Linked DNA regions of Homo sapiens. The protein of the gene in region 1 interacts with the protein of each later gene in a biochemical or structural test. Each region holds a gene or a part of one and is shown on either strand. Other genes may lie near its edges.

Evidence for each region.
Region 2: of the proteins of MARK4 (region 1) and MAP4, one has a biochemical effect on the other in vitro, tested with the Homo sapiens proteins (one study listed by BioGRID).

The regions. Positions count from the first base shown.
Region 1 is NC_000019.10:45,253,738-45,261,870, reverse strand, and holds part of MARK4 (MAP/microtubule affinity-regulating kinase 4), read right to left. Parts: intron 2,883-8,133; coding exon 2,682-2,882; intron 1-2,681. UniProt on the Homo sapiens protein: Serine/threonine-protein kinase. Phosphorylates the microtubule-associated protein MAPT/TAU. Also phosphorylates the microtubule-associated proteins MAP2 and MAP4.
Region 2 is NC_000003.12:47,908,417-47,915,982, forward strand, and holds part of MAP4 (microtubule-associated protein 4), read right to left. Parts: coding exon 7,535-7,566; intron 6,524-7,534; coding exon 6,401-6,523; intron 4,006-6,400; coding exon 622-4,005; intron 1-621. UniProt on the Homo sapiens protein: Non-neuronal microtubule-associated protein. Promotes microtubule assembly.

The DNA of each region.
Region 1 (8,133 bases):
ACCTCCACCTCTCAGGTTCAAGGGATTCTCCTGCCTCAGCCTCCCGAATATCTGGGATTACAGGCATGCGTCACCATGCCTGGCTAATTTTGTATTTTTAGTAGAGACGGGGTTTCTCCATGTTGGCCAAGCTGGTCTTGAACGCCCAACATCAGGTGATCCGCCTGCCTGAGCCTCCCAAGGTGCTGGGATTACAGGCATGAGCCACCGCACCCAGTCTGCAGTAAAACTTTTATTTTATTTTTAAAACAGAGATGGGGCCAGGTCCCTCTCAGAAACCCCTGGAACCAGATCCACATATAGGGAACCATGTGTTCTTCATGGAAGAGAGAGCCCCTTAGCTTTCCTCATATTCTCACGAATGTGTTTTTAAAAATTTTATCAAACACTTTTTATGCCAGTATTGAGACGATCATATGGTTTCTCTTCTTTAATCTGAGAATGTGGTGAAGTACATGAATAAATTGTCAAAGGGAAAAGAACTTTGCATTCCTGAGATAAAGCCAGTTTCGTCATCACACAGCTTTCTTTAATTGATTTGCCAGGTTCTGTTTGTTAATATTTTGTATAAGATTTTTATACCTATGTTCACCAGATTGGCCTGTAATTTTGTTTCTTGTCTGGTTTTGCTCTTAAGGACAAACTAGCGCGTAAAAATCAGTCAGGCAGTGGCAGTTCTTTCTTTAGTCTCTGGAAGAACTGGCATAAAATGTGAACATCTGGTAGGATTTGCCTGTAAGACCATCGGGGCCCGGTGTCTTTTGCGTGTATGGTGTAGACAGCGTGAGGGCAGGGGAGAGTCCATCCAAGGCAGGATAATTCATTCCAATCATTTCTCTGAAGTTGAAGGAGGGGTGGGGAAATCATGAAATCACCCACCATTCCTTTTCCTCTAAGTGAGTTAGAGACCTCATATCTAGGCTGCAAAGCCTGTGTGGGCCCTTTTTGCAATAATGTCACCATACTCAGCACAGATGCCTGCTCTGGAAGAGGTGGTGGGGAGAGTGAGGCTGTGTGTAACTGAGAATACAACATAAATAAACCTGCTGTGTTCTCCAGATCACAGGAAGATTTCAAGGAACCAAAGTCCACCCTTAAAACAGAGAGGCAGCTCAGGTTTATTTATTTTTTATTTTTAATTTATTTACTATTTATTTATTTATTTATTTATTTTTTGAGATGGTCTTGCTCTGTCACCCAGGCTGGAGTGCAGTGGCACAATCTCGGCTCACTGCGGCCTTCGCCTCCTGGGTTCCAGTGATTCTCCTGCCTCAGCCTTCCAGGTAGCTGGGCTTACAGGCACGCACCACCACACCCAGCTAATTTTTGTATTTTTTTTTCAGTAAAGATGGGGTTTTGCCATGTTGGCCAGGCTGGTCTCGAACTCCTGACCTCAGGTGATCCACCTGCCTCGGCCTCCCAAAGCGCTGTGTTTGTTGGTATGAGCCACTGCACTCGGCCAATTTTTTTTTTTTTTTTTTGAGACAAAGTCTCGGTCTTGTTGCCCAGGCGGAATACAGTGGCACCATCTTGGCTCATTGCAACCTCTGCCTCCTGGGCTCAAGCAATTCTCCTGCCTCAGCCTCCCAAGTAGCTGAAATTACAGGTGCCTGCTATCACACCAAGCTAATCTTTATATTTTTAGTAGAGACGGGGTTTTACCATGTTGGCCAGGCTGGTCTTGAACTCCTGACCTCAGGTGATCCACTTGCCTTGGCCTCCCAAAGTGCTGGGACTATAGGAGTGAGCCACCGCGCACGGCCTTTTAATTTTTTTATTTTTTTGAGACAGAGTCTCACTCTGTCACCCAGGCTGGAGTGCAGTGGCATGATCTCGGCTCACTGAAACCTCCGCCTCCTGGGTTCAAGCGATTCTCCTGGCTCAGCCTACTGAGCAGCTGAGATTATAGGCATGTGCCACCACGCCCAGCTAATTTTTGTATTTTTAATAGAGACAGGGTTTCATCATGTTGGTCAGGCTGGTCTCGAACTCCTGACCTCAAGCAATCCACCTGCCTCAGCTTCCCAAAGTACTGGGATTACAGGCGTAAGCCACCATGCCCAGCCCTCTTTTATTTTATTTTATTTTTATTTTTTGAGATAGGGTCTCACTCTGTTACCCAGGCTGGAGTGCAGTGGTGAGGTCACACCTCACCGCAGCCTCAAACTCCTGAGCTCAAGCGATCCTCCCGCCTCAGCCTCCCAAGTAGCTGGGACCACAGGCACACACCACCGCACCCAGCTAATTTTTAAAAAATTTTACTTATTTTTTAGTGGAGACAAAGTGTTGCTATGTTGCCCAGGCTGGTCTCAAACTCCTGAGCTCAAGGAATCCTCCTGCCTTGGCCTTTCAAAGTGCTGGGATTACACGTGTGAGCCAATGCATCCGGCCACAGCTCAGGTTTATCTACAAAAGCCACATGCATCCTTAGCAACGCACACATTGGACTGCCTGTGATCTGAGATTTCCCGGCAATTTCAGGGATACATGAAATTAGTTCTCTTTTCCCATGGGGGTGGTTCTGGGAACATCAGAGATATTGTGACCTGTCCCATAGAGAGTCGGGAACTTACCTGAGGCCACAAAGCAAACCCAGGGCCAATCCTGACCTCTATCAACATACACCGAAGACCTGGTCCCACAGGGACCTGCCCCGAGCCCCACCCTGTGCCCATACTCACCTCCCGACCAGTGAGGATGTGCCGAGCCAGCTTGACTTTGGCAAAGTTGCCCTTCCCAATGGTCCTCAGCAGGCGGTAGTTGCCCACGTGGGGCTGCTCCTCGGGACAGGAGGCGATGGAGTTCCGGCAACGGGCACCCAGTGAGCGGCTGGACCAGGACGGGCCTTTGTCCGAGGAGCGGCCACTGCCCAAGGTGCCATGCTGGGCGGGGGAGATGGAGCATGAGCTATCCAATCCCACCTTCCGTGGAACCCGTGGGCTAGTGCACTTAACTTGAGGCCTGGCTACCGGCCCCTCCGTGGCCCTTTTCAAACTCAGGCCCCAGAGAGCCAAGCATCCTTCATCTTTCTCTACAAAAAGACGCCTCCAGGAACAAAAGCCCCCATGTCCTCCAAATCTGCAACATTCAGGGCCCCAGGCATCACACCCCTTCTTCAACCCTCACTGCAGTCTGACTACCCCCAACCTCCTTGTCTTTTTTTTTTTCCTTCGGATGGAGTCTTCCTCTGTCACCCAGGCTGGAGTGCAGTGGCACGATCTCAGCTCACTGCAACCTCTGCCTCCCGGGTTCAAGCCATTTTCCTGCCTCAGCCTCCCGAGCAGCTGGGATTACAGGCGTGCACCATCATGCCTGGCTAATTTCTGTATTTTTAGTAGAGACGGGGTTTCACCATGTTGACTAAGCTGGTCTCAAACCCCTGACTCAGGTGATCCACCTGCCTCGGCTGTACGGATTACAGATGTGAGCCACCGCATCCAGCCCCAACCTCCTTTTCTAATTACACACATACCTCAGAGATATCGCAAGTTTGGTTCCAGACCACCGCAATAAAGCAAATACTGCAAAAAAGCAATGCACATGAATCTTTTGGATTCCCAGTGCATATAAAAATTATGGGCCAGGTGGCCAGGTGCAGTGGCTCAGGCCTGTAATCCCAGCACTTTGGGAGGCTGAGGTGGGTGGATCATGAGGTCAGGAGTTCGAGACCAGCCTGGCCAATATGGTGAAAACCCCATCTCTACTAAAAAAATACAAAAATTAGCCAGGCATTGGCACACGCCTGTAATCCCAGCTACTCTGGAGGCTGAGGCAGGAGAATCACTTGAACCTGGGAGGCAGAGGTTGTAGTGAGCCGAGATCGCTCTACTGCACTCTAGCCAGAGTGATAGAGTGAGACTTGGTCTAAAAAAAAAAAAAAAAGGCCAGGCATGGTGGCTCACACCTGTAATTCCAGCACTTTGGGAGGCCGAGGCGGGCAGATCACGAGGTCAGGAGATTGAGACCATCCTGGCTAACAAGGTGAAACCCCATCTCTACTAAAAATACAAAAAATTAGCCAGGCGTGGCAGTATGCGCCTGTAGTCCCAGCTACTTGGGAGGCTGAGGCAGGAGAATGGCATGAACCCAGGAGGTGGAGCTTGCAGTGAGCCGAGATCGCGCCGCTGCACTCCAGCCTGGGTGACAGAGCGAGACTCTGTCTCAAAAAAAAAAAAAAAAAATATTATGGGCCAGGCGAGGTGGCTCACGCCTGTAATCCCAGCACTTTGGGAGGCCAAGGCAGGTGGATCACCTGAGGTCAGAGTGTGAAACTTGCCTGGCCAACACGGGGAAACCCCGTCTCTACTAAAAATACAAAAATTAGCCGGACATGGTGACGCGCACCTGTAATCCCAGCTACTCAGGAGGCTGAGGCAGGAGAATCACTTGAACCAGGGAGGCAGAGGTTGCAGTGAGCTGAGATCGCGCCACTGCACTACAGTCTGGGTGACAGAGTGGGACTCCATCTCAAAAAAAAAAAAAAAAAAGAGAAAGAAAAATTGTGTTTACATCATACTGCAGTCTACTGAGTGTGCAATAATAGCATTACAGCTATAAAAACAATGTACATACTTTAATTTTATAATACTTTCTTGTTAAAAGATGCTAACAATCATCTGAACCTTCAGTGAATCACAATAAAACAAAATCATTGACAAGGCGGGAGGATCGCTTGAAGCCAGGGAGTTTGAGACCAGCCTGGGCAATGAAGCGAGACACCCATCTCTAGAAAAACTTAAAAAAAAAAAATTAGCTAGGCATGGTGGCATATGCCTATAGTCCCAGCTACTCAGGGGGCTGAGATGGGAAGATCGCTTGAGCCCCAGGAGGTTAAGGCTGCAGTGAGCTATGATCATGCCACTGCACTCCAGCCTGGGCAACAGAGCAAGACCCTGTCTCTAAAAAAAAAAGAGGAAAAACATCACTGATATCAGATCACCATAACAGCTATTATAATAATGATGAAAAAGTTTGAAATACTGTGTGAATTACCAAAATGTGACAGAGACACAAATTGTGCACAGGCTGTTGGAAAAATGGAGCCTACAGGCTTGCTCAACACAGGGTCGTCAGAAACCTTCAATTTGTAGAAAACACTGTATCTGTGAAGCTCAATAAGGCAAAGTGCGAAAAAGCAGGATATGCCTGTCCTGGAGCCTGGATCAACTCTACAATATTTTGCCCTAAATGAGGCTGCCCTCAACCCCAATCAACGCTGACCTCAATCTGGACTCGAGGCTCCTCCTCCACCACCACTGGTCCTGACTTGCTATTTTACCCATCAACTGTCCCCTCTCCAGCCCCCAAATTCTACTTCAAACCCAAATGTCAACATTTGATTCCCAGTGGAATGCCCCTAACATTTGATTCCAATCACTGTTACCCCAGATTGGACTCCAAACATTGTAACCAAGTCTTATTTTTTTTCTTTTTGACACAGAGTTTCACTCTTGTTGCCCAAGCTGGAGTGCAGTGGCCCAGTCTGGCTCACTGCAACCTCTGCCTCCTGGGTTCAAGCGATTCTCCTGCCTCAGCTTTCCCGAGTAGCTGGGATTACAGGCATGTGCCACCACACCTGGTTAATTTTGTATTTTTAGTAGAGACGAGGTTTCATCATGTTGGCCAGGTTGGTCTTGAACTCCTGACCTCAGGTGATCCACCCACCTCGGCCTCCCAAAGTGCTGGCATTACAGGCCTGAGCCACCACCCCCTGCAGGGTAACCAAGTCTTTCACTGGCCCTGAGACCTGGTTGAATCCCTGTTATCCTCCTTCCATGGGAAACACTGTTGCTTCTGCCACCCCCTGAAACACCCAGGGCTTGAGAAGCGCCCTGACTTGCTGTCTCCCACACCATGGCTTCTCTCCTCCTGATGTTCTGTTCCTACTGTCCTGTCCCTCCCTGGCCTCTCTCCCCCGCAGGTCACCTGCCTGCTCTGAGCTGCCCTGGCCTGATTGGAAGCCCCAGGGACTGTCTCCCTTTCAGGGCTGGGGCTCAGGGTGCCTGAGGCCTCCCGCCAAGGCAGTTCTGCCTGTGCCCTTCCGGCTGGGAGTGGGAAGCAGGAGGACAACAGGAGGGGAGGAAGAAAGGCCAAGAGGCTGATGGGCTGGGGGCCCAAGTCTCTGAGAAAGACACTGCCGGGCCACTTGATAGCAACGACAACTAACGTTTAATTAATGCTGGTCATTGATGCAATATGAGGCCATTACCACACTATTATCTCCATTTTACAGGTGGGGAAAGTGAGACCCGGACCCACGATCTGAACCCAAACAGTTTCCACCAGTATTTTTTTTTTTTTTTTTTTTTTTTGGCAGAGTTTCACTCTTGTTGCCCAGGCTGGAGTGCAATGGCACGATCTCAACTCACTGCAACCTCCACCTCCTGGGTTCAAGCAATTCTCCTGCCTCAGCCTCCCGAGTGGCTGGGATTACAGACGCCCGCCACCACAACCGTCTAATTTTTGTATTTTTAGTAAAGAGGGGGTTTCACCATGTTGGCCAGGCTGGTCTTGAACTCCTGACCTCAGGTGATCTGCCCACCTCGGCCTCCCAAAGTGCTGGGATTACAGGCATGAGCCACCGTGCCCGATAGTTTCCACCAGACTTGATGCTCTTCTCTGTCACAATACCACACTGCCTCTCACACCTGAACCTTTTTTTTTTTTTTGAGACAGGGCCTTGCTCTGTTACCCAGGCTGAAGTGCAGTGGTGTAATCAAGGCTCACTGGAGCCTCAACTGCCTGGGTTCAAGCAAATCCTCCCATCTCAGGCTCCTGAGTAGCTGGGACCACAGGAGTGCACCACCACACACAGCTGATTTTTAAATTTTTTTGTAGAGATGGAGTCTTGCTATGTTGTCCGGGCTAGTCTTCAGCTCCCAGGCTCAAGCCATCCTCCTGCCTGGGTCTCCCAAAGTTCTGGGATTATAGGTGTGAGCTACCACGCTGGGTCATGAACCATTTCTACAAAGCAGCTCATGCTATGGACCAAGTCCTGTGTAAACAGGTAACTCGCCTACACTTAATTCCTGCAGTAGCCCAGGGAATGACTCCATGTTCCAGCAGAGAAACTGAGCCTTGGAGAGGGAAGGTGCCATGTGAAGGTCACACAGTCCATTCACAGGGGCAGAAAGACAACCTCCCCACAGCTGGGCAGTTCCAACCACCACGGCCAGGGCTCTAACCACGCGTCCGCCACTGCCTGCCGTGCCCTCACCCTGGCCTCCAATGTGGGTCCAATTATGATCTGCAGTCTTCAGACGGGGACACCCAGGCTCAGGCAGGGGGAGTCCCTCCCCCAAGGTCACAGGGCAGATGGAGCAGAGTGCTGGGATGCGAACCCCGGCCTGCTGATTCCTCCTGAGTGCTGAGCCAGGCTTCCCCACAGGCCCAGGCTTCTTCCCAGGAGAGACCAGGGAGGCAGGTGGAGATCCTGGAGATAAGGCCTCCGATCCCCACCAAGATAAGGACCTGGAGAAGAAGCCCTGTCAGGTGGCGCCAGGGCAGCCAGCTGGAGGTGGGATGGCACCACGCTGAAGGCAGCATGGCTGAGGGACCCCTGCGAGGGGCAGCTGGGGCAGTGGGTGACAAAGCCCCTGGGGGCCGGGGGTGGGAGCTAAAATTGGCCTGCACCACCAGCTGGCCTGGCTCCCTCCCGCCCGGCTGGCGCCCCAACACCCGGGACTGTTGCTAGGGAACCTGGGGAGGCTGGCCCCCTGGTGGGGGGCCCTGGAACTTGGGGTGGGGGAGCATGACCCCACGTGGCTGTAGCCATGGTAACCAGGTAACAGGAGAGGGGGCTGCAACCTCCCATTCCAGAGGCAGGCAAGTGACTCCCCACCAGGACTGACAGGCAGGTCTTAGTGACAAGAGTTGGAGGAGAGAAAAGGGGATTAGCCATCCTCAAATCCGCACCATGCACGCATCTTAACAACCCAGGGAACAGCAAGTCTTCATTAGGCGTTCCACTTAACAGACAAGGAAACCAAGGCTCAGAGAGGTAAGGTTACTTGCCCGAGGTCACACAGCTAGGGAGGGACAGAAACAGGATGTGAACCCAAGTTTATCTGAACAATTAAAGTAGTGCTAATAACCACAACAGCCACGACACATGCCAGGCCCTGTGCACCTTAG
Region 2 (7,566 bases), on another chromosome or scaffold:
AAGCAACAAACTGGTCAAAAAATGTATCTGTATCATTGAGAGATCATTTCCCATTACTAGAAACACAAATAAATCGGTGCCTACCAATGCTGGTTTGAGGCCACCATTTCCTCATAAGGAGGTGGACTGATTTCATTTAACCTAAAAGCAGTTTGGATATTTAGTCCCACCAGCACAAGCTACATATAAATTGAAAAAAATCTCATGCACATAGCTAGACATGAAATATTTTCTTTCCTCCTGTGAATCCTTATACCAAGTAATGATTAAAATTTAGCTGTAAACTTGATACATAGGAGGCACAATTTTAAAAAAATTAAGAAATGGATGATGATAGGTCTTTTGTTAGACAATTCATTGAAAATTCAACTTCCCCTAAAATTCAACGTTCAGTGCTGGGTAAAAAAGGCATGCAACCAAGTTACCAGCCTCCTCAAGCAGGACACAAGGAACACATTGGCTGCAGAAAACACACCGTAGCAGTTATAGGTTTCATGCCAACAAACCAATGATTAACAAGGATGATTAGAGTCTGGATGGAGCCAAGACACAAGCTCTTTGCCTTTCTGATGCTGACTCAAAAGCCACAAGCACACACATTTCCCCATGGCAGGTTCATACCAGCGGACTTCAGTTGCTTATGTCTCTCTTGTTCCTGGATTGTAGACTTTGGCAAAAGTGGAGTAAGTCCTCGGGACTTGGTGGGTCTCATGTAGCCTTTCATTGGTTCTGCCATTCTGCTTTTATCTTCCTTTTTCCCTTCTCCTGGTGTCTTTGATTCAGATTTTTCTGTCATTTTCTGAGGTGTCTCCAAAATCTTATCTTTGGGTTCTGGGAGTCGAACACCCTTGGAAGCAGTCATTATTACTAACGTATCCGCCACCTCTGAAGGAGGAGCTTCGACTTTGCTATGTAAGAAATCTGACTGGATTTCTGGTGTTGGCAAGGAAACGCTTTCCAATTCCGTGATTTTACAAGCCAGACTAATTTCTTTCAATTTATCATTTTCACTTTTTGGAGACAAAAGAGTCAGATCTACCTTCTTATTCAAACTATCTGAACCTTTGGAATTTCTATCTTGAGCATTTTGGTCCTCACAAAAACTGAGCTTTTGTGCTTTGTCTTCCAGTAAGTCAGGAATCTGAACTGCAACAGACCCTTCTTTAGTCTCTTTCTCTTCATTCACTGGATGTGCTGGGAAATTACCTCTATCTGCATATCCTTCTAGGGCTCTGGCCTCTCCTGGTAGGCTCTGGTCTTCTACTGGCACTCCAGGAAGGAGGTGACCTTTTGCTAGCTCTGTGACTTTCTCTACTGAATGCTTAGACGCACCACTGTGCACTGACTCAGATTCTCCTATCACATGCCCTTCATCGATCCCTGCTTCATTTTTCATGGAATCAGCAAGCTCAGCTTTATTCTTAAGAGAGTGATCTCCATGAATGTTAACTGTTTCTATGGCTGTTGTAATAGGTAGAGCAACTCCTCCTGTGCTTGTAGAGGGCACAACAGCAGAGGGACCCTTGGGTCTTTCTTGACCTGGGACTCCATCTTTGGTGTAGTTATCTACCATTAATGATTTGGAAATCTGGGCTGGGGCTATCTCTTGCCCATTTTTTGCCAAGGTATCTGGAAAGGAATCACCTTCCTTTACTACTTGAGGAGTAGGAGTGGGCAGTTTTTCACAGGCTGCTGATTCCAGAACCTCTAGAGGAGATGATTTATTTATCAGCTCTGATGGTGTTCTGGGACAGGTAAATGTAATATTTCTATTTTCGTCCATATAGGCCATTCCTTCAATTCCCTGGTCCCCTGTGGTTTCCATGGGAACATGTATTTTTGTTGCATCTATCTTATTCTCCAGAATGTGCTTCTCAGGAGAACTATTTTTAACCTTTTTACTTTTTCCATCATTACTCCTTTTACTTGGTTTGTCAGCCACTGCAGTGTATCTATTGGCTGCATCTGTCTTATTCTCCTCAGATACTACTGAAGGAACAAATCCTGCCCCCTGGATTTGCTCTTGGCAGCTCACATCTGTCACCTTGGCAGGTGGTTCAGTAACAGTAGAAGCCTTGACTGTGCTTATCTTGTTTTCCCCAAGAGTCCCAAGCTCAACAAAATTAACCTGAAAATTTCCACCCTTCCTGTCAACTGCTTCCACTGTGGGTGTATCTGGTGTATGTGAGAACGAAGAATCATGCATTTTGGGGAAAGTAAATCCTATTTCCTTGCTTTTATGGGGAATACTACCAGTATCTCCATCCTTCCCTTCAAAAGGTGGGTTAAGGATTTCTTCCTTCCTCTCCATTCTAGCAGGCTGTGTGGAATAATTATTTTTAAACTTTTTGCTTTTGCCTTCATTGCCTCTCTTTTTAGGCTTTTCAGAAATCCAGGGAGCTGCCTCATGATCCTTCCATGGACACCTTCCTTCCTTGCTCTGGTTATTGACACCCATATCTTTGACTACATCTCCTGTTTCTGTGCTAACACCAGAAGTCTGAGTCATGCCTGATCCACTTTCCAAAGGAATCAATGCCTGCATGGTGCCTGCCACCTTAGGCTGAGTCATCTCTTTAGGCTCCCCCATCACCACTGCCTCCGTGAGATCAGCCTTAGTGCCTGGTTGCTTTGAAGAATTCAGCCCCAGCTCCTCACTCTTATCCTGAGTAGTCATTCCTTCAGTTTTAGAGACTGGCTCACTCGGTATGAGAACAGCCCTTCCGTCCTTCTGGCTGTCCAGAAGAAATGGCAGCTCAGATTTTGCTTTTACCTTCCCAGAATCTGTTCTCATTTTCCCAGAACTTCCCCTTCCCTTCCTGCTTTTGCCATCACCTGCCATTCTCTTAAATGGTTCATTCTCTACCCCAGGGACCTGTACCAACACTTGGCCCTGCAGCTGCTCAGAAGTAAAGATGCTGATCTCTTGTCTTTCGTTGGGAAAAGCTTCCTTTTTTAGTTCTTTATCCTCTTCAGCTCCTTCAGGAAACTCCTTCAGTTTGACATTCTGCAGTTTAGTCATTTTACTTTCATTATTCCCTTCTTTTAGATTACATTCTAATGGATTACTTGCTATCAAAGTGGGTACCAAATTTGGTATTTCTTTTGCTGCTGTGGGTTTTGAAACTACACCCATAACCTCTTGGTCCAAGAAAGGAGAGCAACCCTCTTTAAGTCTGATATCCAAAGGGGTTTCTACATTGTATGCAGAAACTTCTGCTAGGGGTCCTTTCAGATTGAGAGGGCCTACTGACTGGCTTTTATCTACAGGAGTCTTCAGGTGGGGTGCAGGCTGTGGTTTGTATTCATGTTGCTTCAGCAATTTCTTGTCTTGGTTTTGTAGTACTGACTTGTTACTTTTGCTCTCTTCCTCTACTCTCAGCTTAGACTGAGAACTTATTGCAGTTTTGGGGGCTTCTTCAGAAGGATATAAAGGAATTCTGAGACTCTCTGAGACAAAGTTCTCAGCTACCAGTCTGGCTGCACTGGAGTTAACTAAACATTCCCTTTTCAAGTTTTCTCCAGATACAAGTCCATATTCTGTACCCATAGTGGTAGGCTGGCTGGGGAGAACACCTGATTTTTGTGTGTCAGCTGCAAATGGATGACCTTTAGGCTTATCTGCATTGTCATCATCCGAAGGTCCTCCAGCCCGTGGTTGAGAATATCTCTTTTGCTTTGGTTTCTTCTTCTTTTTCTTCATCATTATTGGTGTGCTTTCTATATCCCAGGCCTCCCTGCCAAGATCCCTCTGGGGTTCAAGTGAGTCAACATGAATACTTTTTCTTTGGTTCCCAGGCCCACCACAGGAGGATGAACCAGAGACCCAACCTGACTCAGACAAAGAGCAGTGGCCCAGCCTGTGATCAAGAGTCTTCCATGGAGGAGAGCCTCCCAGCAGCTCAGGAGGGACCCTGGCAGGCTTGGGCCGGGTTGACCTGCGGTCACTGGGTCTGCAAACTTGTTTGGCTTGTGTGGGAGGGGTACCGCAATACATGAAGTTGGCTAAAATTCCAAACAAAAAACTCCTCGTTATTGTTTCTTAAAAACAACAAAAAACAAACAAACAAACAAAAAAACCAGACCATATAAATGACTAATTTAAGGAGGCTATTTTCACTAATACATATAGTACTTACTGTAATTTGCTCAGGAAAACAGTCTTTTCTAAAACATTTCTCACTTTTAACTGGCGCTAGCAAAAATATTTAACAGATCATCATCTCAGGTAAAGATTGTTTTCAAACATTTATAAAATATTTGAAATTTCAGAAGTAGCAGGATTGAACTTTTAAAAATGAAACATTTCACATCTTTTAACCTCTAAAAATAAGCACTTACTGCCTGTAAATCTCATCTGATTTATATTGGTCATTCTTAGTGCTTGCCTCTTTTTGGTGAAATTTATTAATTGCTTCAGTTAAATATACATGATTTTGGACAAAATTTATAATTCTAAGACTAGGTCACCAATATTAAACTAATACTTGTCAAACAAACCAGACAGATTCTGGGAACTAGATCAGAAGGCCAGACTTAAGTCACTTCACGCACACACACAAAATATACTGAATCCACATTTTGGTCAGAGAAAAATTCTCATGATTCCAGAACCAGAGCATCCTACTTTGAAAGACAAATATGTTAAATTTCAACATTCTGCTCCTAAATGTACTTCCCAAAAGACAGAGAAATATATATAATGTTAAGTAGGATAATTAATTTTAACAATTAAGATGAGTACCTTTGGAAGAGTTTCAGCAGGTGATCTGGTCTAACCTTCCTCCCAGTTAATATAATATGGATCCAAGATCCTGGCAAGAGTCTCATTAAGAGCAGGTATATGCCAGCTCCTGTCAAGTCTGACCCAATAAATTGATTTCCAAGAATATTATAATATGTAAATAGTGGATTTCATTCTTGTCCTTACCCCTCCAATATCCTCTAAATCCTAGCCTTTGTTTAATATCTCAGGTTAATTATTGCATCGCTCAAAAAATTGCTAGGCTATAGTATCCCCCAGTATTTATAACATTTAATTCAGCAATTAATCAGCAGCTATTCAGTGCCATCTTTTATACTATTTTATTCAATTATTATGTAAATCTTGGGTTTCAGAGTTCATGCCTGAGAACTTATCTCTTCATTCAGGTTATAATATAATAATTCAGGGGGCAAGGACGGGGACTTAAATATCTATATGCCTTAACATGGTGTATTTTGTATACCATAAGCACTTGATAAATCTTTACTGATTTGTTGAGTCAGTAAAACAACATTTAAAAAAAAAATCACACATTTATTTAAGCTCTAGTCTTGTGCTAGGTAGTGTGCAAAGCATTAGAGATTCTAAGTGAAATAAGTCATGGGCCCTTATGTCCCATATGTCAGGATGTCCACATTCCAATCATAGTCACAGAAAAGTAAACAGAAAATCAAGTTGATAATCATATACATATGCTTCTGGGTTATTAAAAACAGGTAATCTTCAAATTCACTGAATAATCAAACTTTAAATTGGAAAGTATCTTAGAGCAGTACCTCTCAAAGTTTAATGAAAATTAGAATTATCTGGGGATCTAATTAAAATGCAGATAATAATTACAAAGGCCTAAGGTAGAGCCCAAGATTCTGCATTTCTACCAGCCTCTCAGGTAATGTAGATGCTGTTGGGCCATGGAACACTGTAACTAGTAAGACTTTAGAGAACATTTGACCAATTAATTTATATTATAGCTAAGTAAACTGAGATATAGGCAAGTTATGTAACTTGCTTAAGACCACACAGGATAGAATAGTGAATAGCTGAACCAGATCAAAATTTGGGTGTCCTTTCTTCACTATGAAAACAGTGGAGAAGGCCAGGCACGGTCGCTCACGCCTGTAATCCCAACACTTTGGGAGGCTGAGGTGGGCAGATCACCAGAGGTCAGGAGTTTGAGACCAGCCTGGCCAACATGGTGAAACCTCATCTCTACTAAAAATTAGCCGGGCATGGTGGCAGGCGCCTGTAATCCCAGCTACTCAGGAGGCTGAGGCAGGAGAATCGCTTGAACCCAGTAGGTGGAGGATGCAGTGAGCCAAGATCACGCCATTGCACGCCAGCCTGGGCGACAGAGTGAGACTCTGTCTCAAAAAAAAAAAAACAACGACAACAACAACAAAAAAAACAGTGGAGAAAAAAAAAATTAGGTATCCTGATTTGCTGTAGTAGTAATTTTTAAAGATATAACAAGCTGACATTCTGTCTAAACCAGATAAAATCTGTCTAAGAGAATTGACTTCATAAACTATACTGCTGATTACCACCATACAACAGGGAACTAGAGACAATGTCTACCATCACTACTCTATCGCCCCTAATTTGTTTCAAAGAGTTCATTTTGTTTTCCTAACTTACCTGAGGTCTCTGAAGAAAGCTCAGAAGGTTGACTGTTGCATGGTTTCCTTTCCCCTAGTTTTTCTAACACAGAATCCTCCTCGGCCGGCAAGCTGCACTTTTTCCCCGTTCCTGTGACGGTTTCTAAAGGTAATAACAAAAGCCACACACGTTTCAGAGAAGCATGATTTCAGCTATTTTCCATCTGCCAGAAATTGGATATGGGATTAGTTTCTGAGGAGTTCTCCTACAAGGGGCAGCAAAGGAGTGAAGTGGTAGTTGGAAGCTGAAGTTGGGAAGGTATGTCTAGTTATGTTACTTTTTTTTTTTTTTTTGAGATGGAGTTTTTCACTCTTTGTTGCTCAGGCTGGAGTGCAATGGTGCGATCTCGGCTCACCACAACCTCCGTCTCCCAGGTTCAAGTGATTCTCCTGCCTCAGCCTCCCGAGTAGCTGGGATTACAGGCATGCGCCACCATGCCCGGCTAATTTTGTATTTTTAGTGGAGACGGGGTTTCTCCATGTTGGTCAGGCTAGTCTTGAATTCCCGACCTCAGGTGATCCGCCCACCTCGGCCGCCCAAAGTGCTGGGATTACAGGTGTGAGCCACCATGCCCGGTCAATGTTTCGTTTTTTAAGATGGGAAAAATAACAAACGTTTGTTAAATGGGTGGGAATGATCCAATGAAAAAAGATTTAAATTGGTATGAGGGGCAAAAAAGGGAAGAATACATGGGGCAATATATCGAGTAGGAAAGAGGAGATGGAATCTAGGGCAAAATGAGGAGAGGTTGGTCTTAATTAGGAGCAGGAACAGTTTACTTATAAAAACGGGAACTTTCATAAGCAGAGACCATGGATACAGATACAAGTAGTTGGGTAGATAATGGAATAGAAGTTTGTCGATGTTCTATTTTATTGCTTGACTTATCTGCAAGAAAAACAGGACAATCAGCAGAGAATGAACATAGAAAAGGTGTTGGAGGTGGGAGGAGGGTAAAGGCGGGAAAGAGTTGTCTAGGAGAGCAGGAGTATGAATAAACTTGCAAAGTACAGTGTGACTGTCTGTACTTTACCTGGCATGATGTTTGTCCTTAGTCTTCTCGAGACTACAACCTGGTAGAGAGAAATACTGAGAATAAGCACAAGCACGTACCTGGTGAAATCATGAAAGTAGGTGCAGCTGAC